Homo sapiens: one gene and its partners. The protein of the gene in region 5 purifies or fractionates together with the protein of the main gene of each other region. This does not show direct contact. Each region holds a gene or a part of one and is shown on either strand. Other genes may lie near its edges.

Evidence for each region.
Region 1: the proteins of PPME1 (region 5) and RAD51B purify together in Homo sapiens (co-immunoprecipitation; one large-scale study listed by IntAct). This does not show direct contact.
Region 2: the proteins of PPME1 (region 5) and PSMD5 fractionate together in Homo sapiens (co-fractionation; one large-scale study listed by BioGRID). This does not show direct contact.
Region 3: the proteins of PPME1 (region 5) and TDRD1 purify together in Homo sapiens (affinity purification with mass spectrometry, with the first as the bait; one study listed by BioGRID). This does not show direct contact.
Region 4: the proteins of PPME1 (region 5) and GMPS fractionate together in Homo sapiens (co-fractionation; one large-scale study listed by BioGRID). This does not show direct contact.
Region 6: the proteins of PPME1 (region 5) and PPP2R5D purify together in Homo sapiens (affinity purification with mass spectrometry; 3 studies listed by BioGRID and IntAct, with this or other methods). This does not show direct contact.
Region 7: the proteins of PPME1 (region 5) and TOM1L1 fractionate together in Homo sapiens (co-fractionation; one large-scale study listed by BioGRID). This does not show direct contact.

Annotation. Positions count from the first base shown.
Region 1 is NC_000014.9:67,864,779-67,868,278, reverse strand, and holds part of RAD51B (DNA repair protein RAD51 homolog 2), read right to left. Parts: intron 3,492-3,500; exon of another isoform or gene 3,394-3,491; intron 3,277-3,393; coding exon 3,140-3,276; intron 1-3,139. UniProt on the Homo sapiens protein: Involved in the homologous recombination repair (HRR) pathway of double-stranded DNA breaks arising during DNA replication or induced by DNA-damaging agents. May promote the assembly of presynaptic RAD51 nucleoprotein filaments.
Region 2 is NC_000009.12:120,836,423-120,839,922, forward strand, and holds part of PSMD5 (26S proteasome non-ATPase regulatory subunit 5), read right to left. Parts: intron 1-3,500. UniProt on the Homo sapiens protein: Acts as a chaperone during the assembly of the 26S proteasome, specifically of the base subcomplex of the PA700/19S regulatory complex (RC).
Region 3 is NC_000010.11:114,182,353-114,185,852, reverse strand, and holds part of TDRD1 (tudor domain-containing protein 1), read right to left. Parts: exon of another isoform or gene 3,486-3,500; intron 1-3,485. UniProt on the Homo sapiens protein: Plays a central role during spermatogenesis by participating in the repression transposable elements and preventing their mobilization, which is essential for the germline integrity.
Region 4 is NC_000003.12:155,933,150-155,936,649, reverse strand, and holds part of GMPS (GMP synthase [glutamine-hydrolyzing]), read right to left. Parts: intron 1,735-3,500; coding exon 1,604-1,734; intron 313-1,603; coding exon 140-312; intron 1-139. UniProt on the Homo sapiens protein: Catalyzes the conversion of xanthine monophosphate (XMP) to GMP in the presence of glutamine and ATP through an adenyl-XMP intermediate.
Region 5 is NC_000011.10:74,230,289-74,233,788, forward strand, and holds part of PPME1 (protein phosphatase methylesterase 1), read left to right. Parts: coding exon 1-111; intron 112-623; coding exon 624-714; intron 715-3,500. UniProt on the Homo sapiens protein: Demethylates proteins that have been reversibly carboxymethylated. Demethylates PPP2CB (in vitro) and PPP2CA. Binding to PPP2CA displaces the manganese ion and inactivates the enzyme.
Region 6 is NC_000006.12:42,991,070-42,994,569, reverse strand, and holds part of PPP2R5D (serine/threonine-protein phosphatase 2A 56 kDa regulatory subunit delta isoform), read right to left. Parts: intron 1-3,500. UniProt on the Homo sapiens protein: The B regulatory subunit might modulate substrate selectivity and catalytic activity, and might also direct the localization of the catalytic enzyme to a particular subcellular compartment.
Region 7 is NC_000017.11:54,910,852-54,914,351, reverse strand, and holds part of TOM1L1 (TOM1-like protein 1), read right to left. Parts: intron 1,687-3,500; coding exon 1,537-1,686; intron 605-1,536; coding exon 479-604; intron 1-478. UniProt on the Homo sapiens protein: Probable adapter protein involved in signaling pathways. Interacts with the SH2 and SH3 domains of various signaling proteins when it is phosphorylated. May promote FYN activation, possibly by disrupting intramolecular SH3-dependent interactions.

The DNA of each region.
Region 1 (3,500 bases), on a different chromosome or scaffold from region 5:
CGCTTCCCGAGTGAGGCAATGCCTCGCCCTGCTTCGGCTTGCATGTGGTGCGGGCACCCACTGACCTGCGCCCACTGTTTGGCACTCCCTAGTGAGATGAACCCGGTACCTCAGATGGAAATGCAGAAATCACCCATCTTCTGCGTCGCTCATGCTGGGAGCTGTAGACCAGAGCTGTTCCTATTCGGCCATCTTGGCTCCTCCCTCTTTAATACATTTTAAACCTAAGTAGTTTGTATTTATTCCTCCTTTGATTTCTCTCTCCTTCTTAGTAAAAAGATATCTAGATATTTATAGGAAGAAATTATTTTCAACTTTTTCTCACGTACCCTAAATTCTATATATGTGAATCCTTTAATCCTTCATCATATTAATCCTTTAAACACTTTCTCATTTGTGCTGGTTAGCCGGCTAGCTTTGCAAGCACAAAGTGGAGACAATGTGAACACATACAGAGCTACAACATAGTCCTTTTTGCGTCTCATATTTCCCTGCCTTACCTCTTCTCTAAGTCCAGAAACAGCTGGGGCTGGGACAGAAACTGTTAATTACCAATCCAATATCCATTTCCACTTCTTCCTCGCTATGAGAGCCCCAGTTTTATTCAGGCAGCAATATTAACCAGACAACTCATCATGATTGTTACGACGATCTTCTCCCCTCACTTTCCCAGCCTCTTTTTACATATAGAGGTGACTCAGTGAGAAATCTACAAGAGGACTACAGGCAACAAAAAGGAAATCCACAGATGGGAGGAGGCAGATATTATGAATAAAAGTACACTTTCCTGATAAAAGATATAGCTGGCCCTTTTTCTTCACACTGACTTGAGCACAGAATGAATCCGATGTCTGAAAATGTGCATGCCCTAGGTCTCTCTGTCATCACTGAGACCTGAGTGACCCAGTGCCAGCAACCACCTACTCAGGTCTTGTTATATGAGAGAAATAAACCTCTTTTTGTTTAAGCTACTGTTCTTTGGATACTCAGTTATCTGCAGCAGTAAGCTTTCCTAACCGATTGGCCAACCTTTCCTGATAATTCCAAATAGGGGTTAAGCTGTCCTGTAACAGAATGAATGAAATGTGATCAGACACTACAGGGCCAGTTCCATTCTATGACCCACCATGACAAACTAGAAGGTAGTATAAGAATGCCAAATCTGGCATATATATCGGAGAGCATTCATATTTTTTATTCTACTTGGCCCTATCACCAGACCTCAAAATCCATTCCATGTGTGAGCCAGATGATCACTCATTTTAAGCCTTGTGGAGAATGGAATAAAAAACCAAATACAATATAAAGTTCAACCCCTATTCTCAAATGACCTTCATAAGAGCTCCTTGTGAACTATGCAACGTAATTCCAACAAAGGAGCTAAAATATTACCTCTTCATTTTCCAACCTGCCTCTGATGTAAATACCAACATGCACATTGGCAGAAAAAGATATGAAGGAGAAATAAGTAAATATGGGGGATTCAAAAAGTAAATAATTAAGGCTCTATGCAAAGACAAAAAACATAAGACTCTCCACAAATTCATTTGGAAAATGCAGACAAGTCACCTGCTAGTCTTCTGTATGTATGCTGATATCACCCAATTCATTGATAAGGTTTTTACACTGCTCTGAACTGTAATACTGGTAATAAAATAACATGCAACAGTTTCCTCCTTAAGAAGACATCCTAAACTCTGTTTTGTATGTGGTGCAAAGAAAGCAGAAATCCATTACAGTGAACTGAACTGCTGTTATAAAAATAATCTTAATCTTTGAATTCTTTACCCAAATTCCCCAGGACCTTTGTAAGAGCTATTTGAACATTAGCTATTTATGACATAACTGGCTATTTAATACCTACTTGGCTTGTTAGTCGAAGGCTAGTCATTGGCATTTTAAAGAGTACTTGGACAATTTGAGTGAACCAGTCTTTACCAGCTTTAATCTCAAATATATTTTCATGTTCAAATTTCCAGTAGTCTCAATGTTTATTCTTCTGTTCTTTTTTTTAACCATTTATTTAAGTCAAGATCCAAATAAGTTAATCACACAGCAATTGATCAATAAGGCTTTTAAATCTGTTTTAATCCAAAGGTTCCCCTTCCAACTATTTTTTAATCTTACAATTTATTTGTTACAGAAACCAAGTTGTTTGTTCTGTTATTTCCCACAGTTTGGATTCTGCTAATTGCATTTTCTAGAGCAGTTTGATGTGTTCCTCTCTTCTCTAGCTAGGTTGTAAATTGGTGGCTGGATCTGAAGCCTTGATCACATTCAAATTTGATTGTTCTTCCATCAGAAAGTACCCCAGTGACTCGTCATCTTTTTGTGATGTTAAATGCCTAGATCCATTAGATTGTCAGAGTTTGTAATTTGGTGATATTCTATCATTCCTTATTCATTTACTACTGGGATACATTTATAAAAAGACCAATTTAGGCCAGGCGCAGTGGCTCACACCTGTAATCCCGGCACTTTGGGAGGCCAAGGCAGGCGGATCACAAGGTCAGGAGTTCAAGAGCAGTCTGGCCAATAAGGTGAAACACTGTCTCTACTAAAAATACAAAAATTAGCTAGGCCTGGTGGTAGGGCGCCTGTAATCCCAGCTACTCAGGAGGCTGAGACAGGAGAATCGCTTGAACCCGGGAGGCGGAGGTTGCAGTGAGCTGAGATCCTGCCACTGAACTCCAACCTGGGCGACAGAGAGAGACTCCATCTCAAAAAAAAAAAAAAAAAAAAAGCCAGGCACAGTGGCTCACGCCTATAATCCCAGCACTTTGGGAGGCCAAGGTGGGCAGATCACTTGAGGCCAGAAGTTCAATACCAGCTTGGCCAACATGGTGAAACCCTGTCTCTACTAAAAATAGAATAATTAGCCAGGTGTGGTGGTGCATACCTGTAGTCTCAGCTACTCGGGAGGCTGAGGCAGGAGAATCGCTTGAACCCAAGAGGTGGAGATTGCCATGAGCCCAGATCGTGCCACTGCACTCCAGCCCGGCAACAGAGCAAGACTCCATCTCAAAAAAAAAAAAAAGGCAAGGGGGAGGGGTGGTAAATGTTAACCTATGTGTAAATGTTTCATGCTGTATATAAGTTACAAAAGTAAAACATTATAATAGAAAATAAAATCTCATACCTTTCAGCACTAAATGCAGACTCTGTGTCAATGTACACCACAGCTCCTTCTAATCCTCCCATGTTGGTGGGTAATGTAGCCAAAATGCTCATCATTATACAAAACTGAGTTTTTCCACAACCTGGTGGACCTGTAATCTAAAAAAAAAAAAAAAAAAAAAAAAAAAAAAAAAAAAAAAGTTTTTTAGATAAACATCACAAGCCAGTCAAAGCAAAATCCTTTTAAGACTTTGCCATATATGCAGTCCAACTAACCTGGGTTCCCAGGAGAGAATTAAGCCCAAGACATCCATTGTATGGAATGAATTAACTTCTCCCCTCTGCATCTGAATTGGCACTAGTTATGTACCATCCTTGGAGGA
Region 2 (3,500 bases), on a different chromosome or scaffold from region 5:
GTCTCGCTCTGTTGCCCAGGCTGGAGTGCGATGGCGTGATCTTGGCTCACTGCAACCTCCACCTCCTGGGTTCAAGTGATTCTCCTGCCTCAGCCTCCCGAGTAGCTGGGATCACAGGTGTCTGCCACCAAGCCCAGCTAATTTTTGTATTTTTAGTAGAGATGGGGTTTCACCAGGTTGGCCAGGCTGGCCTCGAATTCCTGACCTCAGGTGATCCACCTGCCTTGGCCTCCCAAAGTGCTGGGATTACAGGTGTGAGCCACCATGCCTGGCCCCATCTGTACTTCTTGTTCAAATCTTTGGCCCATGTTTTAATTGGGTTATTTATTTTCTTGCTATTTAGTTTTGAAAGCTCCTTACATATTCTGAAAAGAAGTCTTTTATCAGATATATTCTTCACAAAGATTTTTCTCCATTTGTGACTTTTCTTTTCATTCTCTTAACTGTATGTAACCTTCGAAGAACCGATTTTTTTTTTTTTTTTTGAGACTGAGTCTCACTCTGTTGCCCAGGCTAGAGTGCAGTGGTGCGATCTTGGCTCACTGCAACCTCTGCCTCCCAGGTTCAAGCGATTCTCCTGCCTCAGCCTCCCGAGTAGCTGGGACTACAGGTGCCTGCCACTATGCCTGGCTAATTTTTGGTATTTTTAGTAGAGATGGGGTTTCACTGTGTTAGCCAGGATGGTCTCTATCTCCTGACCTCGTGATCTGCCCACCTTGGCCTCCCAAAATGCTGGGATTACAGGCGTTAGCCACCGCGCCCAGCCAATTTTTGTATTTTTAGTAGAGACAGGGTTTCACCATGTTGGTCAGGCTGGTCTGAAACTCCTGACCTCATGATCCGCCCACCTCAGCCTTCCAAAGTGCTGGGATTACAGGCGTTAGCCACCACCTAGCCTGAAGAACCGAATGTTTAATTTTGATTAATTCTACTTTGTATCACTTTGTTCTTTTTTTTAGACAAGCTCTCTCTGTCACCCAGGCTGGTGTAGTGGAGCAATCACAGGTCACTGTAGCCTCCACCTCAGCCTCCTGAATAGCTGGGACCACAGGCATGAGCCACCACACCCAGCTCAATTTATTCTTGTATAGATCATGCTTTTGGTGTCATATTAAAGAAGTCTGTTTAACTCAAAGTCATACATTTTTTTTTCCTGTTTTCTTCTAGAAGTTTTGTAGTTTTAGGTTTTATATTTAGGTCTATGATCTACTCTCATACACTGCTGGTAGAAATGTAAAATACTATAACCACTTTGGAAAACAGTTTGCCAGTTGCTTAAAAAGTTAAATATACACCTACCATACCATCTAGCCATTTCATTCCTAGCTATTTACTCAAAGAGAAAAGAAAGAATATTTTTATGTAAAGACTTGTACATGAATGCTCACGGCACTGTCATTTGTAATATCTCCAAACAGAAAACAATTCAAATCTCAAATGTTCACCAACAGGGGAATGGATAAAAAACTGTAGTACATTCATACAATGGACTTACACTCAACAATAAAAAGGAATGAACTATTTATTCATGCCACATAGATAAATCTCAAAATAACTATGCTATGTGAAGGAAACCAAACAAAAGAATACATAATGTATGACTCCATTTGTATGATCCCTTCCCCCCATGTCTGGCCAAAATAAAGGGCAAGTTCATCTACAGTGAGAGAAAGCAGATCAGTGGTTGACTGGTTGAAACAGGGAGAGATTAGCAAGGGGTATGAGGGAGCCTCTGGGAGTGAAAGATACATTCACTATCTTAATTGTGGCGATGGTTTCATGGGTATATACATATGTCAAAACTTGCCAACTTGTACGTTTTATTAAGTGCAGTTCATTGTATATAAATTATACCTTTGAAAGCTGTTTAAAAAAAAGTAGTGGTACGTTAAACTGCACAGTGCACAAATTTCAGATCCTATGTGACCCTTCTTTGCCAACGAGCCAAAGAGTTAATGCTTAAAATTAGTCTTGTTTGATTTTCATGTTCTAAAGCAGTAATCTTAGGACTTAAACTCTCTCAAAAAAAACTGTCAAGATTCTAACTTACATCTGCAAGATCAGATTGTGAACCAACACACAACAACTTATGTGGTTTAGCCAGGATAACAGCAAAGTATCTGAAGACTGCCAGATACTATCCAGAGAATTATTCCCACAAGGTGCAGTTGGTATCTACTATGTATCCAGTTCTGAATTATTCTGTCTTTAAATTCCATTAAAATTGTTCCCTAAAGCACTGCTCCTTCATTCAGCAAACTATCTTCCCCATGGACCTGAATCCTCAAATTCTGCCTCACTTCAGTTCCTACTGCATCTCTGCTGTCAACTTGCGGTATGACCTCTGGAAGTCTCTTCATCTCTAATAGGAGAGGTTGGACAAGGTGGCCACTCTAAACTCTGTGAGTCTCAAATTTAATTGGGCGTATACTGCATTATGTGCTGGGCCCTAAGAGGGATGCAGACATGAACAAAATGCGGTCACTGCCTTCAAAGAATTTACAAACTGGAAATAGACACACAGAGAACTATAACATAGGTAATAGTGTCAATTATCATTAACAGAAATAACAATAATGTCCTTTAGCAGATCTAAGGAGCAGTCATTTGCAACTGGAATAATTGAGAAAAATATTTTGGAGGAGATGGCTCTTTAGTGGGCCTAAAAGGATGGACAGAATATGGACAGACAGCAAAGTATTTCAGTTAGAAAGGCTGGTATGAGTAAAGTTAGGAAAGTGCAAGTCAGGCTTAAGGAAAAATAAGGGTGCCACATGGTAGCTGGAGCAGATGAAAAGAAGTGGAGTGGAGGAAAAAAGTGAGGTTGGAAAAGTAGGATGGAAATATACTGTAAAGGGCCCAAATGGCATTCTAAAAACTCACTACAGGCAATGGGAAACCACGGAAAAGATTAGCACCAGCTGACTCGAGATGTATGCTCACTGGGGTTACAAGGTGGGAAGGAATTTGCTAGAAAAGGAATTTGCTAGAAAAGGAATTTCAGAGGTAAGGAGAAGTCAGACTAACACTACAGACCTAGCAATAGGGAAAAAATGAGGGCTTGAATTAAAGAGGAGACAAATAAGAGACATTTCATAGGCAGACCCAAATAATGTTAACTGATAGACATCATGAATGGAGAACACTTACAGAAAAGGAAGGAATCTTAGAAGGTCAGAGCCAAGAAAGCGCTCTGAAATCATCCACTGTTGATTCAGTGGTTCATAATCTTTTCAAGTAGTAAGGTCACTTGAAAGTCTTTGATCACAAACATTTCAAAACTCTTTTAAATGATCAAATTATCAAATACAAAGTGGTTTTTTTTTCCTTTTTTTCCCCAGAATCCAGGTAAGAATTATAAAATGTTTTTTTAATCTTTTTTTTTTTTTTTTTTTTTTTAGACAGAGTCTTGGCTGGGCGCAGTGGCTCATGCCTGTAATCCCAGCACTTTGGGAGGCCGAGGCAGGCAAGGCAGATCACTTGAGGTCAGGAGTTCGACA
Region 3 (3,500 bases), on a different chromosome or scaffold from region 5:
CTTTGGGAGGCCAAGGCAGGTGGATCACTTGAGGTCAGGAGTTCGAGACCAGCCTGGACAACATGGTGAAACTCTGTCTCTACTAAAAATACAAAAAATTAGCCAGGCGTGGTGGTGTACGCCTGTAATCCCAGCTACTTGGGAGGCTGAGGCAGGAGAATGGCTTGATCCTGGGAGGTGGAGGTTACAGTGAGCCAAGATCACACCATTGCACTCCAGCCTGGGCAACAAGAGCAAAACTCCGCCTTGAAATAAAAGAAAACAAAAAAGATATAATGTTAATATCAGTAGCACATAAAATCAAACTCAAGGTAGAAACTATTGAGACACGTGAAGATATTTTACATTAATTAAGAAAACATAGGCTGGGCACAGTGGCTCACGCCTGTAATCCAAGCATTTTGGGAGGCCAAGGCAGGTGGATTACTTGAGGTCAGGAGTTCGAGACCAGCCTGACCAACATGGTGAAACCCTGTCTCTATTAAAAATACAAAAATTAGCTGGGTGTGGTGGCACGCACCTGTAGTCCCAGCTACTCGGGAGGCTGAGGCAGGAGAATAGCTTGAACCCAGGAGTCAGAGGTCGCAGTGAGCAGAGATGATGCCACTGCACGCCAATCTGGGCAACAGAATGAGACTCTGTCTCAAAAACAAAAAACAAACACTCCAAGGAGATAAAGCAGCCAGGAATCTTTGAATCATTATAATGTTGTTTTGAGGTGTGTAAAACAAAACCCGACTGAAGGAGAAGAAATTCAGTCCACTATGATTAGGACACATCTATCTTAGACAACTACTACTCAGAAAACAGGCGATAGTAAAGACTGTATGAGTAACAATAAACTTGACCTAATTGGGACTAATACAACCAAGAATATTCCTTTTTTTCAACACTGAGTATATGCTGGACTGCAAAAACCACCTCGACTACAAAAAAACTAGTATCATACATGCTACATTCACTCATCACAATACACACAAATCTCCATCTCAGATTATGCTTCACAGAGAATCAGACTGCAATAGCCACAGGTGAAGAGTTTCTTTAGTTTAAAAGTAGTTAAAAAAATCACAAAGGAAATGATAGCAAACATAACCATGTGACAATTAAAACTTACCAAAATAGCAAAGAGTCCAGGAAATACTATCACAAAGATGACAAATTTGATACCTTTTCAAAAGTGGGATAAATATTAAGAACCTCCAGAAACTGTAGCAGACTCAAACGCTATTCAACCTCTGATTTGCCAGCTACAGTTAGCGACACTACTGGCCACAGAGTTCTCCTGAGGGGGGCTTCTGAGAAAGCTCTTCCCTATCCTGAAGAACAGGAACAGATGTGGCTAGCACAGGCCTTCACCCCTTTCTTCCTGCAACACATTCCTGAGGCCTGGAGACTTATCACCCATTTTGTAATTAGGGAGTAATAAGCACAGCCTGAGGATGGTGAAGGAGAAAATGCAGAGCCAAGTGTGTCTGGCGGTTCCTTTGCGTCATCACTCCAGCTCTGGTTTGCCTATGCAGAGACACGCTGAGGCATCAAATAAGCTGTTATTTGCAGGCCAATCAATACAGTAAAATAAATGACAAAAAGGCATGAACAGAATGCAGAGAGGAAGAAGGTAAGTTCATAAACATAAGGGGAAAAGCATTCAACCCTATTTATAGTAAAAAAAAAAAAAATTCAAATTGAAATAAGTATGCATTTTCTGCCTAGTGGGTGCAATTAAAAAATTAAGCCACTCATTACTGAAGGGAGTATCAATTAATATACTCTTTCTGGGAAGCAATTTAGAAATATATAAGTATATATCTATGGGGTTTTTAAAAAGCATTCCTAGCCACTGACTTGGTACCTCTACATCTAGAAATCATGCCATTAAAATAATCCTAAATACCAAAAAATGCCATATATAAAAATGTCCCGTTCAAAATAGCAAAAAAGGCACGGACACAGTGGCTCACACGTGTAATCTCAGCACTTTGGGAGGCCAAGGAGTGGTGGGCTCCTGTAATCCCAGCTACTCAGGAGGCTGAGGTGGGAGAATCGCCTAGAATCTGGGAGGCAGAGGTTGCAGCGAGCCAAAATTGCGCCACTGCACTCCAGCTTGGGCAACGAAGCGAGACTGTCTCAAAAAAAAAAAAAAAAAAAAGTTAACTGTGATGGCTTTAATAGACAGCCTATTATACTATCATTCAGAATCTTAGTTTCCAGAAACACCGTAAAATGTCTGTTAGAATGGCAAATGAAAAAGCAGTAAAAAACCTGTATATTCAATATAATTATAACCGCAAAAGAAAATCAAAACTCCAGGTTAAAAAAAGATGAATGAAACATATTACATTATAAATAACAATGAGTATTCTGGGGTAGGTGGGTTGATGAGGATATCTTTTTCACTGTCTTTTTCATTTTCCAAATTATATTGAATGAATCATTTTTATAGATGAAAACATTTTTAAGACTGAAGTATCATCTAATAGTAAACCTTTTTTCCAAAAATGTGGTAACTTAATTCTAAATCAAGTAAAGGATCAAAGCAATATTTAAACCATAAAACTAGCGTATAGTCATCTTCTTAAGACACTGAGTTGGATCCTCAGTATGCTGCTGTGTGTTACACCCGAGAGTCTTTCATAACACTGTCCTTACTTAGTAACTCATGCTGGCTGTCAATCTACAGTCAGCGCCTCAATACCCTGTATTACAGTTACCTATAGACAGTTATATCTGTCATTTAAATTATTTTAAGTTGCCTGAGTGCAGGAACTCTTATTTTTAAAAATCTGAACAAAAATACCTTTGACTTCCTGCAATATCCACCATGGTGCTTTATAGAACTAGGCATTCAAAAGATATTCGTATGATTGGCCGGGAGCGGTGGCTCACACCTGTAATCCCAGCACTTTGGGAGGCTGAGGCGGGCGGATCACGAGGTCAGGAGATTGAGACCATCCTGGCTAACACAGTGAAACCCCGTCTCTACTAAAAATACAAAAAATTAGCTGGGCATGGTGGCGGGTGCCTGTAGTCCCAGCTACTCGGGAGGCTGAGGCAGAAGAATGGCATGAACCCAGGAGGCGAGCTTGCAGTGAGCTGAGATCACGCCACTGCATTCCAGCCTGGGCTACAGAGCAAGACTGTCTCAAAAAAAAAAAAAAAGATATTCGTATGATAAAAACTATTTTAAATGCACTATTGCACTGCTTTCATGCCAACCTGGACAGGGAAAATGACACCTGCTGTCCGAAATGACATCTGGCAGTCTTAAGTGGAGAAGCACATCAGGCTATGAGGTTTACTGAAATTTAATAACAAAACTTCATGTCTCAAAACAATTCCTCCAAAATCCAAAAATTAGTAAATATATTTGACTTTAGAAACAACATCCGCGTTAGACTCACGATAAAGTTTAAGTAGCAAATAAAGAGGATTTTTACTTAAAAGAAGGTCCACCCTATTTGGAGAATGTTTGAAGGACTCACCCTATTCAGGAATTT
Region 4 (3,500 bases), on a different chromosome or scaffold from region 5:
AAATTTAAAAAAAAAAGCCTATCTTATGAACAGAAAACCAACATAAGAAATACAGCACTGGCATAGCCTATTCCATTCACCATATTATAAAATGTAAGAGGTACTGAGAACGTGCATTAGAAAAAAATATATAAATTACCTCTACAGGGATCTCATTGCCAGGTGTTGCAGGTATACCAGTCATGAAGTCACTAGTAATAAAGGTTCGAATAACCACAGATCTCTGGCATGAAGGCTGCTTTTGAAGTGGGTCCCGATCAAAATGTAATGGTGTCAAAATCACCGGCATCTGGCTGATTTTCCCAGCATACCCTAGAGAAAGGTATATGTAGAACCAATCACCACACCATAGAAAAGCACTCTAACTCAGTTCAATTAAATCCTCCCAGGCAATATCTGAAATCACATATACACACACAGCGTAGTTAAGACTGTCATCATGCATTGATTTCAGCTACTCGCAGAGCATTTTAAATGGACTTAATCACAAATGCAAAAAACAGAATTTGATCACATCAGTGATGTTTCACTGATGTGCTGTAAACAGAAACAGTCCAGTCTCATTATTCTCTATTATAATTTGCAGTATAGTTATATTCTACACTGCAAACAACGAATTAGCGAATACTGAACCATTTCTCCCAGGGGAAATGGAGGGTTAGGTTCCTGCAAGCCTCTGGTTGTAATATTTTCATCAACTGATTAATATATAACCTTGTTTTATGTGTTTCTGATTTAAGACACTGTATTTAATATTTATTATAGATTCATTAACACTGAACTGACAATCAGTAGCTCTTTAACTCATGCCTGAATGAAGTTTATCTAACACACAGATTTTCTCTGTAAGGTACATCACAGCATTCCTGTGCTTAGGAACCCAGACAGCACTTCAACACTATAGTTGAGATCCATTTTAAACAGCAAAATCACCAACAAAAGACATAAAAATGCAAAAGATATAGCATCAAGGAGACCATGAAAAAGACTTGTTCACATTATGAGAGCTGAAAACAAGAAGGCATAGCGTCACCTTGTTCAAACTCAGCTGGGAACATCTAAGTCTGGAAATTCAAATTTTCTGCTGCTCTGTGCATGTCCACAAATGGCCACAAAGGGGAATATATTTTATTTAGAAGCAACATTATAGGCCAGGTGCAGTGGCTCACGCCTGTAATCCCAACACTCTGGGAGGCCAAGGCTGGCCTGACCTGACTCCTGACCTGATCACATGAGGTTAGGAGTTCGAGATCAGCTGGCCAAAATGGCAAAACCCTATCTCTACTAAAAATACAAAAAACTAGCCAGGTGTGGTGGCGGGTGCCTGTAATCCCAGCTACTCGGGAGGCTGAGGCAGGAGAATCACTTGTAACAGGAGGCAGAGGCTGAAGTGAACCAAGATTGTGCCACTGCACTCCAGCCTGGGCGACAGAGCAAGACAGACTCCGTCTCAAGAAAAAAAAGCAACATCATAGAACATTCAAAGATTTAAATAATAAAAACAAAAGCATCTAAAAAGCAAAAGCCACATCCTCCTACTCTTAATATCAAGCTTCCAAAAACTAGTTTCAGAGGGTAGTAATCAAAAACATGAGCAACTTACCAGACTCCCTGAGAATGTTATGGGCCTCAAAATCAGCTTGGCGTAAAGTACTGAGCACCCCTGTTGTCAAGAAAGTGGGAGTAACATCTGTAGGAGGTTCTTTAACTGGTGGGCCAAATATATAAACAACTCTGGAAACAAAGAGGTAAAAATAATACAGCAATTACATTTCAAATGTAGAAATTACATTTTAGTATGAGAAGCAAGGCACTTAGAACAGTAACATTCTTTCCATTTCCCACTTAGTTTCAGGCCCTTCTCCTGCCCACTTCAACTCCCCAGATGGATAGGACAAGATATAAGATTATAGGAAGGTCTGTGTTCTACGTGTTTTCCTCAAAGTGTGTTCTCTGGAATATTCTGTATCTCAGAATGTGCAAAGATATAAGTGATTATTACAACTCTCTTTTCACTTAATGTACTGGGTCGAAGAGTATCCCCAAAACTTCATGCCCACCCAGAATCTCTGGGGAGAAAAAGGGTCTTTGCAAATGTAATCAAGTTAAAATGAAGTAATACTGGATTAGGATGGGCTCTAATCCAATGACTGGTATCCTTCCAAGTGCTGGGAAATTTGGATACACAGATACCCACAGGGGAATGAGGGTCATGTGAACACAAAGACAGACTGGACTATGCTGCCACCACTCGATAGTAGGAAGAAGCAAGGAAGGATCCTCCCCTAGAGTCTTCAGAGAGAATATGACCCTGCCAACACTGAATTCAGACTTCTGGCCTCCTAAACTGTGAGAGAATAAATGTCTGTTGTTTTAAGCCTCCTAGTTTGTGGTGATTTGTTATGGGTAGTCCTAGGAAACAAATACACAATTAAAATTTAAAAATAGGTGTCTTTATGACAAGACTTCAGAAACTATTAATATACTATGCTAACATGCACTGGAAATCTCCAAGAGGAAACTACAGTGAATTTCCCAAAATTAGTAAACTCATCTTTTTTTCTCTACTTGAGAAACAATCATTCTAGAGAGATTCTCATTTGCACTTCATTAAAAAGGCCATTGAAATAGGACTTAGTATCCTACTACTTCCTTCCAAAAAAATGATTCATTAGTGTTTTATATAAATGTCTGTTTGAAAGACATGAAGATACACCACAAATATCTTGAGTTAATGAGAGTACAGTTTGGAACATAACTTGAGGAAATTAGAATCAGACAATTTTAACAACTTGAAGTGTAGCTGGCCACTGGTTTGAAGGGATCTGTTTCACAATCTTCACCCAGAAAACAAGAGGGAATCAGGGTAGAGATATGAGTGCCACTTAGCTAGTTCTCCCTATTCACTTTTCGTTAGTCCTGTTTTTAGCAAAGAAAATAAATCTCCCCGGAAACTATCATGGTAAAGTTTAATGTTTTTTCTTCTTTTCTTAATATGTACTTAGGTAAAATACACAATAGAAAACCATATTAGCACAAAACCACCGGTATCACCAACTACTTTATTGTCTCCTTCCAAACATACTACAACAGAAGCAAGGTTTTTGTCCCACGTATAGACAGTAAGTTATAATTTTTCTAAACAATACAGTTCCTAAAGTTCATAAAAGATCTTTACAGGAGAAAGTTAAGAGAATGCCATGAACCTGCTCTTTTCACCTTCTCATTTCTTACAAACAAAAGTAATCACTAGAGTGTACTGGGACAGGTATTTACCCACACTATATATGACAGTAAAACTGGAACAGTCCCTCCCTGTACAAAGATTCCCTTATCCAAATTAGGAAAAAAACCGGCAAACAGGGAAGAATATTTTTAAACTCCAATTCATCAAAAAGACCCCAGCAAATAAATCTAAAGTTCACCAAGATTCTTTTTTTTTTCTTTTTCCTTTTTTTGAGATGAAGTCTCGCTCTGTCGCCCAGGCTTGAGTGCAGTGG
Region 5 (3,500 bases):
CTCCAATTATGCTGATTGGACATAGCATGGGTGGTGCTATTGCAGTCCACACAGCATCATCCAACCTGGTACCAAGCCTCTTGGGTCTGTGCATGATTGATGTTGTAGAAGGTGAGTTTTCTTAGCACTGACCAAATCAGGATTTCACTTATAAGAGACATCCTTGGTAGATTATTACCTTGTCTTAGTTTATTGTTGATTTCATTCATCTTGAAATATGTCCCTCTGTCTTTATATCTTTTTTAAGTTTATACAAGATAACCATTTTTCCATGTCATCAAAAACTCTTCATTAACATCTTTTTATGGCTGCATAATATTTCAATCCTATGTATGTCCCATAATTGTATTTAATCATATAAAAAGAAGCTGCCATGTCTTTTCTGACCCAGCTTCAGAAGTCACACTGCTGCTTGTGAATACAAGTCATCCTCTTCAGTGTGAGGGCATGACATAAAGAAGTGAATACCCCAGAGGCAAAAATTATTGAGGGCCATCTTTATTTCTCTGCGAGCATCACTAAATTCTGCTGTCATCAAGAGCAGATATATAGTAGTTGACTCAGTAAGTGTAAATGCTCAGAATAAGTTAAATATGTGGTTACAGTTTTTGTTTAACATCCAGGTACAGCTATGGATGCACTTAATAGCATGCAGAATTTCTTACGGGGTCGTCCTAAAACCTTCAAGTCTCTGGAGAATGCTATTGAATGGAGGTAACCAACAAATCTTTGTCGCCTTTATTTAATTAATTTGTTTGTTTGTTTGCTTGCTTATTTATTTATTTAGGAGACAAGGCCTCACTCTGTCACCCAGGCTGGAGTGCAGTGGCATGATCCTAGCTCACTGCAACCTTGAACTCCTAGGTTCAAGCAATCCTCCCACCTCAGCCTCCCAAGTTGCTAAGACTACAGGTACACACCACCAAGCCTGGCTAATTTTTAAATTTTTTGTAGAAACGAGGTCTTGCTATGTTGCCCAGGCTGGCTTCAAGTAATCCTCCTGCTTTAGCCTGGCCTCAAGTAATCAAGTAATCAAATTCCTGGCCTCAAGTAATCCTCCCACTTTAGCCTCCCAAAGTGTTGGGGTTGTGGCGTGAGCCACAGTGCCCAGCCACTGTTGCCTTTATTCTAAATGTTAGATTGTAGCTTTTCTTCTTTTTTAGGTCAAGCACCAAGTTCAAGGAATAGAATTTCAGTTGCCACGCCTTATTGTAATAGCATATGAGGAAACATTATATAAACAGCAGAATTTTTTGAACATTTAAAAATATTTTAGATTTGGCTCAGTTGTCTGAAACCCATTGTTTTCCCAATACACTATAGTACCTCCTGGAATCTTAGTAATTATTGATCATCTGCTGTCTAGCTGTTTCTGCCTCTGAGGTAAGAGGTTAGACTAGGTGGTTTCTAAGGCATCATCCACCTCTGATGCTTCATGGTTTTAGATTTACTTTCTGTGTTTCAGATAAAATGGTGGAGAAATGGAAGATGGCTATAGGTTCCATTCCCTCAAATTTATTTGGATTTTGGGTAAATAAACTCAATGGGTAAATAGTTTTTATAAAAATCAGTGACAGAATTCCATTTAAGCAAAGGAATGAATTTATTCATTAATTCAGTTAATCATTTGATAAAGTATTTATTAAACACTTATTTTGTGCTAATGAGTGAAGATTCAGAGATGAATAAAACACTGTCCCTTCCCACAAGGAGATCAGTCTTTGGATAAATGTCTTCATCATCCTATCTTCCTTCCTATTCTTCTAACTCCATCTCCAGTCTCTTCTTCAGAACATTTTCTCTTAAGTTCTCCAAACCACCCAGATGACGCTTTCAGCAAAATTACAAGAGACCTTTAAGTCTCTATTATATTGCACTGTATACCCTTAAGTTTTCCAATACTCCCTTGAGGGATATGGCTCATATTGTTAATTTTCATTAATGTCTGTCTTAATGCCCTTCCTGCATCATAAGGGAAGAAGCTATTCTGTATTTCTTTTCTACTTTCATATAGCATATGGCATACTGCCCTAGCAGGCAGAATATATCTGTTAACTGAATCAGATATCAAGTGGAAATTTAGGACTTGGTAAATATATCCTAGGCGTTTTCCTAGGACAAATGGTCTTATGCAAGAATATGGCTTGTCAGAATGATGTTTGTGTTGGTGAAGTTTCTACCACTTCCTGTTCACTACTGTGATGCAGGATTCCTGTTCTCACAGAAATATCAAAGATCTATCTTGGGCAGATAGCATCAAGAATGTAGCTGCTGCCAGCTTGGCTTGTATCTCAGGTGCCCTGCCTGCTTCCGCAGTAACAACAAGTGAGAAAGTTATTCTAGACTTGGCTCAGTTGTCTAAAGCCCATCCAACTTTTATCCAAACTTTTTTTTTTTTTTTTTTTGAGACAGGGTGTCACTCTGTTGCCCAGGCTGTGGAGTCCAGTGGCATGATTACAGCTCTCACCGCAGCCTTGACCTTCTGGGCTCAAGCGATCCTCCTGCCTCAGCCACCCAAGTAGCTGGGACTACAGCTGTGCACCACGATGCCCAGCTAATTTTTGTTATTTGATTTTTTTTTTTTTTTTTTTTTTGTAGAGACAGGGTTTTATCATGTTGGCTCGACTGGTCTTGAACTCCTGAGCTCAAGCAGTCTGCCTGCCCGCCTCGGCCTCTCAGAGTCATGGGATAAATGGGTATGAGCCACTACGCCTGGCCCTTTTTCCGAACTCTAAAAATTTATTCAGTAAATTTTTTTTTCTAGTGCCTAAGATGTGTCAGTACCTGATCTAAGAACTGGGGGATGAATCAGGCTCAGTTCCTATCATCAAAAAACTGGGGATGCAAACAAGGAAACACATAAACATAACACAATGAAGGAAGCCAGGGGATATACCTAATGCAGCCTGGGTATCATGGTAGGCCTTCTCTTAAAGTAGTCTTGTTTCTTTTGCCAGATACAGGATAGAATAAGGGTTCTGTTTGTTAAATGTTAAGATGTTCTGGGTTTCATGAGAGTCATTGATCTTTCTGAACCTGAAAATTATTATACTATGAGGTATTTGGTAATTTTGTTTTTTATTCTGCTGGATATCTGAATCAAGTTTATGACTGATGGCCATTTTGGCTATTCTAGATTTTTTTTTATGTTGAAATATAAGGCCAATGATTTACTGCTTTTGCTCTCATAGGTTTCCTAATGAGAGGCAGCAGGGGTATAGTCATTAAGAACCTGGGCTTTAGGCCAGGTGTGGTGGTTCACACCTGTAATCCCAGTGCTTTGGGAGGCTGAGATAGGAATATTACTTGAGGCCAGGAGTTTGAGACCAGCCTGGGCAACATAGCGAGACCCTGTCTCTACAAAAAATATATATATTTTTTTAATTAGCTGGGTGTGGTAGCATGTGCCTATAGTCCCAGCTACTCAGGAGGCTGAGGTGGGAGGATCATTTGAGCCCAGAAGTTCAAGGTTATAGTGAGCTATGATCATGCCACTGCAC
Region 6 (3,500 bases), on a different chromosome or scaffold from region 5:
GCCTCCCAAAATGCTGGGATTACAGGCGTGAGGACATTGAATTTTTTTTTCCAAGGACAGATCAAGAAAGACCCTTACCTGCAGAGGCAGGTCAGTGGGGTCTCACCTGATCTCCCAAGGCTCCTTTCCATTCTAGGATTCACTTCTAGAATCTTAGAGCCAGCAGTATCACTTCATTCAAGACCACAAGAGACTCCAGAGTCACACAGACCTGGGTTGAATTCCAGCTCTGCCTTACTGCCTTACTGGCTGAATAAAAGCTACTTAACATTTCCTTTTGAGACAAGAGTCTTGCTCTCTCCCCCAAGCTGGAGTGCAGTGGCACAATCTCAGCTCACTGCAACCTCCACCTCCCAGGTTCAAGCAATTCTCCTGCCTCAGTCTCCCAAGTAGCTGGACCATGCCAGGCTAATTTTTGTATTTTTAGTAGAGACAGCGTTTCACCATGTTGGCCAGGCTAGTCTCGAACTCCTGACCTCAGGTGGTCTGCCCTCCTCGGCCTCCCAAAGTGCTGGGATTACAGGCGTGAGCCACTGTGCCCAGTTAACATTTCTAAGCCTCAGTTTCATCTGTGAAATGGGAATAATAATAATAAAGGAATCTCAGGGGAGTATTGTGAAGGTTAAATGAGACAATGTATGCAAAGTACTTAGCACAGTGCCTGGTACATAGTGTTGCACAGTATCCAGTCCCCTACCCCCTCCCCTCACCAAATTCATGTCCACCTAGAATCTGTGAATGTGACCTTACTTGGAAACAGGGTCTTTGCAGATGTAATCAAGTTAAAATGAGATCATACTGGATTGGGGTGAAACCTAAGTCCAATATGACTGGTGTCCTTAGAAGAGGAAAATTTGGACAGAGACAGAGACACATGGAGGAGAATGCTGTGTGAAGACAGAGGCAGAGATTAAAGTGATGCATCTACAAGGAATGCCAAAGATTGTCAAAAGCCACCAGAATCTAGGAGAGAGATGTGGAACAGATTCTTCCTTAGAACCTCAGAAGGACATGGCCCTGCCGACACTAATTTTACAACTTTTGGCCTCCAGAGCTGAGAGAGAATGTATTTCTTTTTTTGTTTGTTTTTTGTTTTTTGAGACAGAGTTTCCCTCTTGTCACCGAGGCTGGAGTGCAATGGCACGATCTCCTCTCACTGCAACCTCCGCCTCCTGGGTTCAAGCAATTCTCCAGCCTCAGCCTCCCCAGTAGCTGGGATTACAGGTGCGCCACCACTACGCCCGGCTAATTTTTGTATTTTTTTTTTTTTTTGAGACGGAGTTTCGCTCTTGTTGCCTAGTCTGGGTTGCAATGGTGCAATATCGGCTCACTGCATCCTCCGGCTCTTGGGTTCAAGCGATTCTCCTGCCTCAGCCTCCCTAGTAGCTGGGATTACAGGCATGTGCCACCACGCCTGGCTAATTTTTGTATTTTTAGTAGAGACAGGGTTTCACTATGTTGGTCAGGCTGGTCTTGAACTCCTGACCTCAGGTGATCCACCCGCCTCGGCCTCCCAAAGTGCTGGGATTACAGGTGTGAGCCACCATGCCCAGCCCAATTTTTGTATTTTTAGTAGAGACAGTGTTTTACCATGTTGGCCACGCTGCTCTCAAACTCCTGACCTCAGGTGATCCACCTGCCTCAGCCTCCCAAAGTGCTGGGATTACAGGTGTGAGCCACCGCACCCAGCCTATTTCTATTGTTTTAAGCCACCCAATTTGTAATAATTTGTTTTGTTTTGTTTTCTTGAGACAAGGTCTCGTTCTGTCACCCAGGCTGGAGTGCAGTGGTACGATCATGGCCCACTGCAGCCTTGAACTCCTGGACTCAAGCGATCCTCCGCCTCAGCCTCCCGTGTGGCTGGAAGTACAGGGGCACATGCCCCCACATCCAGCTAATTTTTTATTTTTTATTTTTTTGTAGAGACAGGGTCTCTGTATGTTGCCCAGGCTGGTGTCAAACTCCTGCCCTCAAGCAATTCTCCCACCTCAGCTTCCCAAAGCATTAGGATTACAGGTGTGAGCCAGCATGCCGGGCTTATTTGTAGTAGTTTATTATGGCTGCCCTAGGAAACTAACACAAAGTAACTGCTCTATAAAATAAATGTCAGCTGCTATAACTATTAGATCAATTAGAAAGGCTCTGGCAAATGCCTGACAGAGCAAAGCTGGCTAGAAGAGCCCAAAATTCCGGACAAGAAAAGGGCAAGGGGGCCGGGCGCGGTGGCTCACATCTGTAATCCCAGCACTTTGGGAGGCCGAGGCGGGTGGATCACGAGGTCAGGAGATCGAGACCATCCTGGCTAACATGGTGAAACCCCATCTCTACTAAAAATACAAAAAATTAGCCAGGCGTGGTGGCGGGAGCCTGTAGTCCCAGCTACTCGGGAGGCTGAGGCAGGAGAATGGCGTGAATCCAGGAGATGGAACTTGCAGTGAGCCAAGATCGCGCCACTGCACTCCAGCCTGGGCGACAGAGCAAGATTCCATCTCAAAAGAAAAAGGGCAAGGGAAGGACTGTGCCAAACAGCTTTTGAAGACCACAGCCTCACATCCTAGCTCCAACTTTTCCCCATACCCCTGCCATACCAGACGTGGGTACATTTCTACAAAATCATGGATAATTCCTGCTGCCATCTCATACCTGTGAACCCTGAGCAGCGTTTCACCAAACAGCCCAAGGTGAACTCAACACCCTCCTTTCCCAGATTGCTTGTAATAGACCCATTGTCTTAGGCATATTTGTTTGAAAGGCAGTGGATAAATCATAGCAGTTGGTCTCAGCATACTCCTTAACCTGTTCAGGCTTCATTTTCCCATCTATGAACTGATAACGTTAGACCCTAAGGTCCTTTTCAGCTCTAATGTGAAATTGGTGCATTTGTTCATTCACTCGTTCACTCATTCACTCACTAATACATTCAAATGCTGGGTGCTTCTGCTGTGTCAGGCCCTTCAGGAGTGAATGAGAGCCTCATGGAGCTCTCGTGCTAACACAAGAGACAGCCGATAAAACAATGAATTCACAAGGAATTATTTCATGACAGTTGTGGTTAGGTGCTACCAGCGCTACCAGGTACTGAGTGCCAAAACAGCAACTAACAGAAGCCCTCGCGAGGTCCTGGGGATAGGGGTGGGTGGTCAAAGAAGGCTGCTTTAAGGAAACGACATCCCATCTAAGAACTAAAGAAGTAGGAGTTAGGCAAAAGGTGGGAACTCCCCATTAAATTTTCCTTCCTCTCCCAGGATTTTCAGGACTTAGAAAATCCTGTTTCTTGCTGCTCTAAATGTCAAGTTACCAGCTTCCAACCACCTTCCCTGTGGGTCCCACAATTATAATCATTCCTGAAAGGGAGACTGAGCCCATAGTGTGTCTTCCCAGAAGCATTTACTATGAACCAACTGCACAAGTACACAGAGGTAGGAAAGAAGCAATGCAGAATAACATAGCTCCTTCCCTTGGAGTTCACAGTCTGAGAGGAGAGACACAGATGGGGACAA
Region 7 (3,500 bases), on a different chromosome or scaffold from region 5:
AAACTGCCATGTGAGATTATTGATGCCTTCTCTTTGGGTTGTTAATAACAAATGGTAGCTCAATTCATGTCAAGTCCTTTTAAGCCACAGCTGACAAGGCATCTCCTTCTCCATCAATGACCCTCCTTGGGTCAATGCCACATCTCCAACCTTGGGTGGAGAGGTGAAAGCTCAAGGCTCTAGGCCAGTGCTTCTCAACATTAATGTGCAGAGAAAACACCTGGAAATCTTGTAAAAAGGGAGGTTCTGATTAGTCTAGGGTGGAACATGCCAAACAAACTTTCATACTTTTAGTAGCAAAACACACTTTAAGTAGCAAAATCCCAAGTCTCGGTTATTCTATGAGATATTGCAATATCCTTCTAATAACTTCATCTTTTTGCTTAAGCTGGGTGGATTTAGGGTTGTCTCCTGTAATGAGAAAAGACCCAAGTGATACACTACTATAGTCTCCATGGGTCAAAGAAAGGCCTCCTACCTCTTGTCTTGCTGTTTCAGCCTCTGCTTCTGAGGGAGGAAACTGAACGCCTTTCTTAACCAGGTCGAGGTATACTTCTTTGACTTCGCTTACATCCACACCTCCTGGGAAGCCCTGTGACCAAGTCTGAATTCAAGAGATGAAAAAAGTTCCAGAGTTAAAACAGCAACAAAACCAAAACACAATTCTTTTTTTTTTTTTTTTTTTTGAGACAGAGTCTCACACTATTGCCCGGGCTGGAGTGCAATGGCACAATCTCTGCTCATTGCAATCTCCGCCTCCTGGGTTCAAGCGATTCTCCTGCCTCAGCCTCCTGAGTAGCTGGGATTACAGGCGCCCGCCACCACGCCTGGCTTACTTTTTGTATTTTTTAGTAGAGACGGGGTTTCACTATGTTGGCCAGGCTGCTCTCGAACTCCTGACCTTGTGATCTGCCCACCTCGGCCTCCCAAAGTGCTGGGATTACAGGCGTGAGCCACCGCACCCAGCCGAAAACACAATTCTTAAGCTCCTGATAGAAAATAAGAGATCAATAATTATGTACCCCACTCAGAAAGAGAAAGCTACTTTTGAATGCCATGGGCAAAATGCTCATTTTCAAAGGCTAGGAAAATATAAAATCTTTTAAATCAGATTTCCATGCCTCAAAATCTTGAAGAAACCCTAGGATATATACTATCAATTGTTTTTTGCTGCTCTGAATCCAAAATTAATAGATTCTAAAATAACATCAGTAGCTCTTTTTCCAAGTAACCTTGAACTAGTCAGTTAGCTGGAAGTTTCCCTACCTGCAAAGTGAACACACAGATCACTGTCTTTCCTATTTGACACAGATAAAATAGAAACTGAGAGGAAAGCAGGGAAATGACTACAAATTCTTCAGAAAAAGGGCACCATCCAATGCCAAAAAATTATTATTACACAGAAACTAAAATAGCAAAAATGCTTTTCTAGCTCAATCCTAGATATATAAAAGATAAGTGAAACAATCAGGAGGTAAGCTATTAAATCCCTAATCTTAGAAATTTACCATCCCATGAGGTATACAACAGACTTACCTTAATGAAATTCAAGATTCTATTCTGAATGTCTAATGGCAAGTTGTATCTGGGATTCAGTAGCTTAACTAAATTCTCTTTAACAAATTCCTTCTTCACAATCAGAGACTGGAAACTTGGACCACAGTTCTGCACACACATGTCAATAAGCTAAATTAGAAAAAAAATTAAACATTATATTTATCTGGCAAAACCACCTCCTAAAAATGTAAGGGAAAAACTGCTAAATAATGGGTTCCATCAGCATCCTAATTAACAAACATAATTTAGTATCTACTAAAATATATGGCAAAATGTTAGGTTCTGGGGATATGTGGAAGTATGAGCATAATGTAACAGTCTGGAGGACAGACTTATTGAGGAGTCCCAGCACATCCAGAAGGGCATTAACACCAATGCAGAGTACTAAATGCTAAATGCTGAAGGGACGTGCAGGCCAAACATATGAGCTATGGATGGAATAATATCTGTCCCAGTTTACCCAGGGTAGCACAGGTATATTCCCAATGTCCTGTTTATTAATGATGACACACCCTTTCACTTTCAAAAATGTCCTGGTTTGGATGATAAATTACACAGTCACCCCAGCTATAGGCCCTTATAGGCAAGAGTGATTATTTAGGGCTAGGTGGTCTTACAAGACTTTTGGAAAAGGCTAACTGGAAGCTGGGCTTTGCAAAATGGCTAAGAACAGTAAAAATGAGTATAGAGCTATATTCTAGACAGATAAATTGTATGAAAAATATATAAATGTGGAAAAATGGGTAAGTTATGAAGGGGGAGATAAGTATTCTGGTCTGTCTCTAGTAGAGGCATCCTGATATAGGTAAATTGGGGACACTGGAAAGATAGGGTGGATAAAGTCCGTCCAGGTTGTAGAGAAGTTTGTGTGGCATGCAAAGGGTGTGGATATTATCTTGAAGGCACTATGAAGTTATGGAGGGTCTCTGTTAGTTTGTCACCATCACACCTGTACCCTGAAATTGAGGAAAAGGTTAATGTGTGCAAAGTAATATTCTGGATAGGTTGTCAGGCAGCACTCTGCAAAGGCAAGCGGAGGGAGAAGAAACCTGGAATGATAGAAAGATCCAGTAGCAATGCACTATTTCAGGCATGTTATAGAAAAGGCCTAAACTAAGATGATGTGGGTACAAGAAAAGGAGGAGTCATGACACCATTATGAAGGAAGAACTTTGAATGACAGTGCTGGTCAAAAAAGGAAGATGACTGAAAGTTAAGTGACTCTCATTCTGCATGAGGACCCCTGTGACGGAAATTTGGAAGAGGGGGTGGTATGGCTGGTCTAGGTGTAAAAATGATGGGCTGAAATTTAGATATTTTGAGTTCAAAAGATAAGGGGCATTTAAGTAGGTGTTTAGCAGTGAGCTGGACACACACAGCTATAGTTCAAGAGAGTGAAGGGCCAAAAGTGAGTCATCAAGGCTGCCTACAATGAGAAGAGAAGAGGAAGGGCTGAAACACTGGGGTTCACCTACTATACGGGCCAACGAAAATCCAAGGAAGGCAATCAAAGAGTAACTGACAGAAAATGAAGCACAAAATCAGGAATACATAAGGCACCCCTTTGGTAAAGTCAAAAGAAAAGTTTCCTGGAGGATGGGGTGTTATACAGTTAAGAAGATGGTCTGAGGAACATCAGTTCCCTTGAAAAACACATTTGCAATAAAGCAACATGAGCAGAAACTTGACTAAGAAAGAATGAACCAATACTGAAGAACTGCATGCAGGAAGTAGATTTCTAAAAGTAAACTAAAAACAAAATTAAATCTTTAGTTTCCATGCTACCACCTCAAATTAGAAAGGTCATAGAAACCATAGCATGACCAGGATAGGTATAATCATCTCTGCAGAATAGAAGCCCTGAAAATGGACTTCATGCCATGCTTTGTATTTTTAGTCTCTCTTTAATGGCAATACATAAAGCGGCAGCATATAGCGTTTAA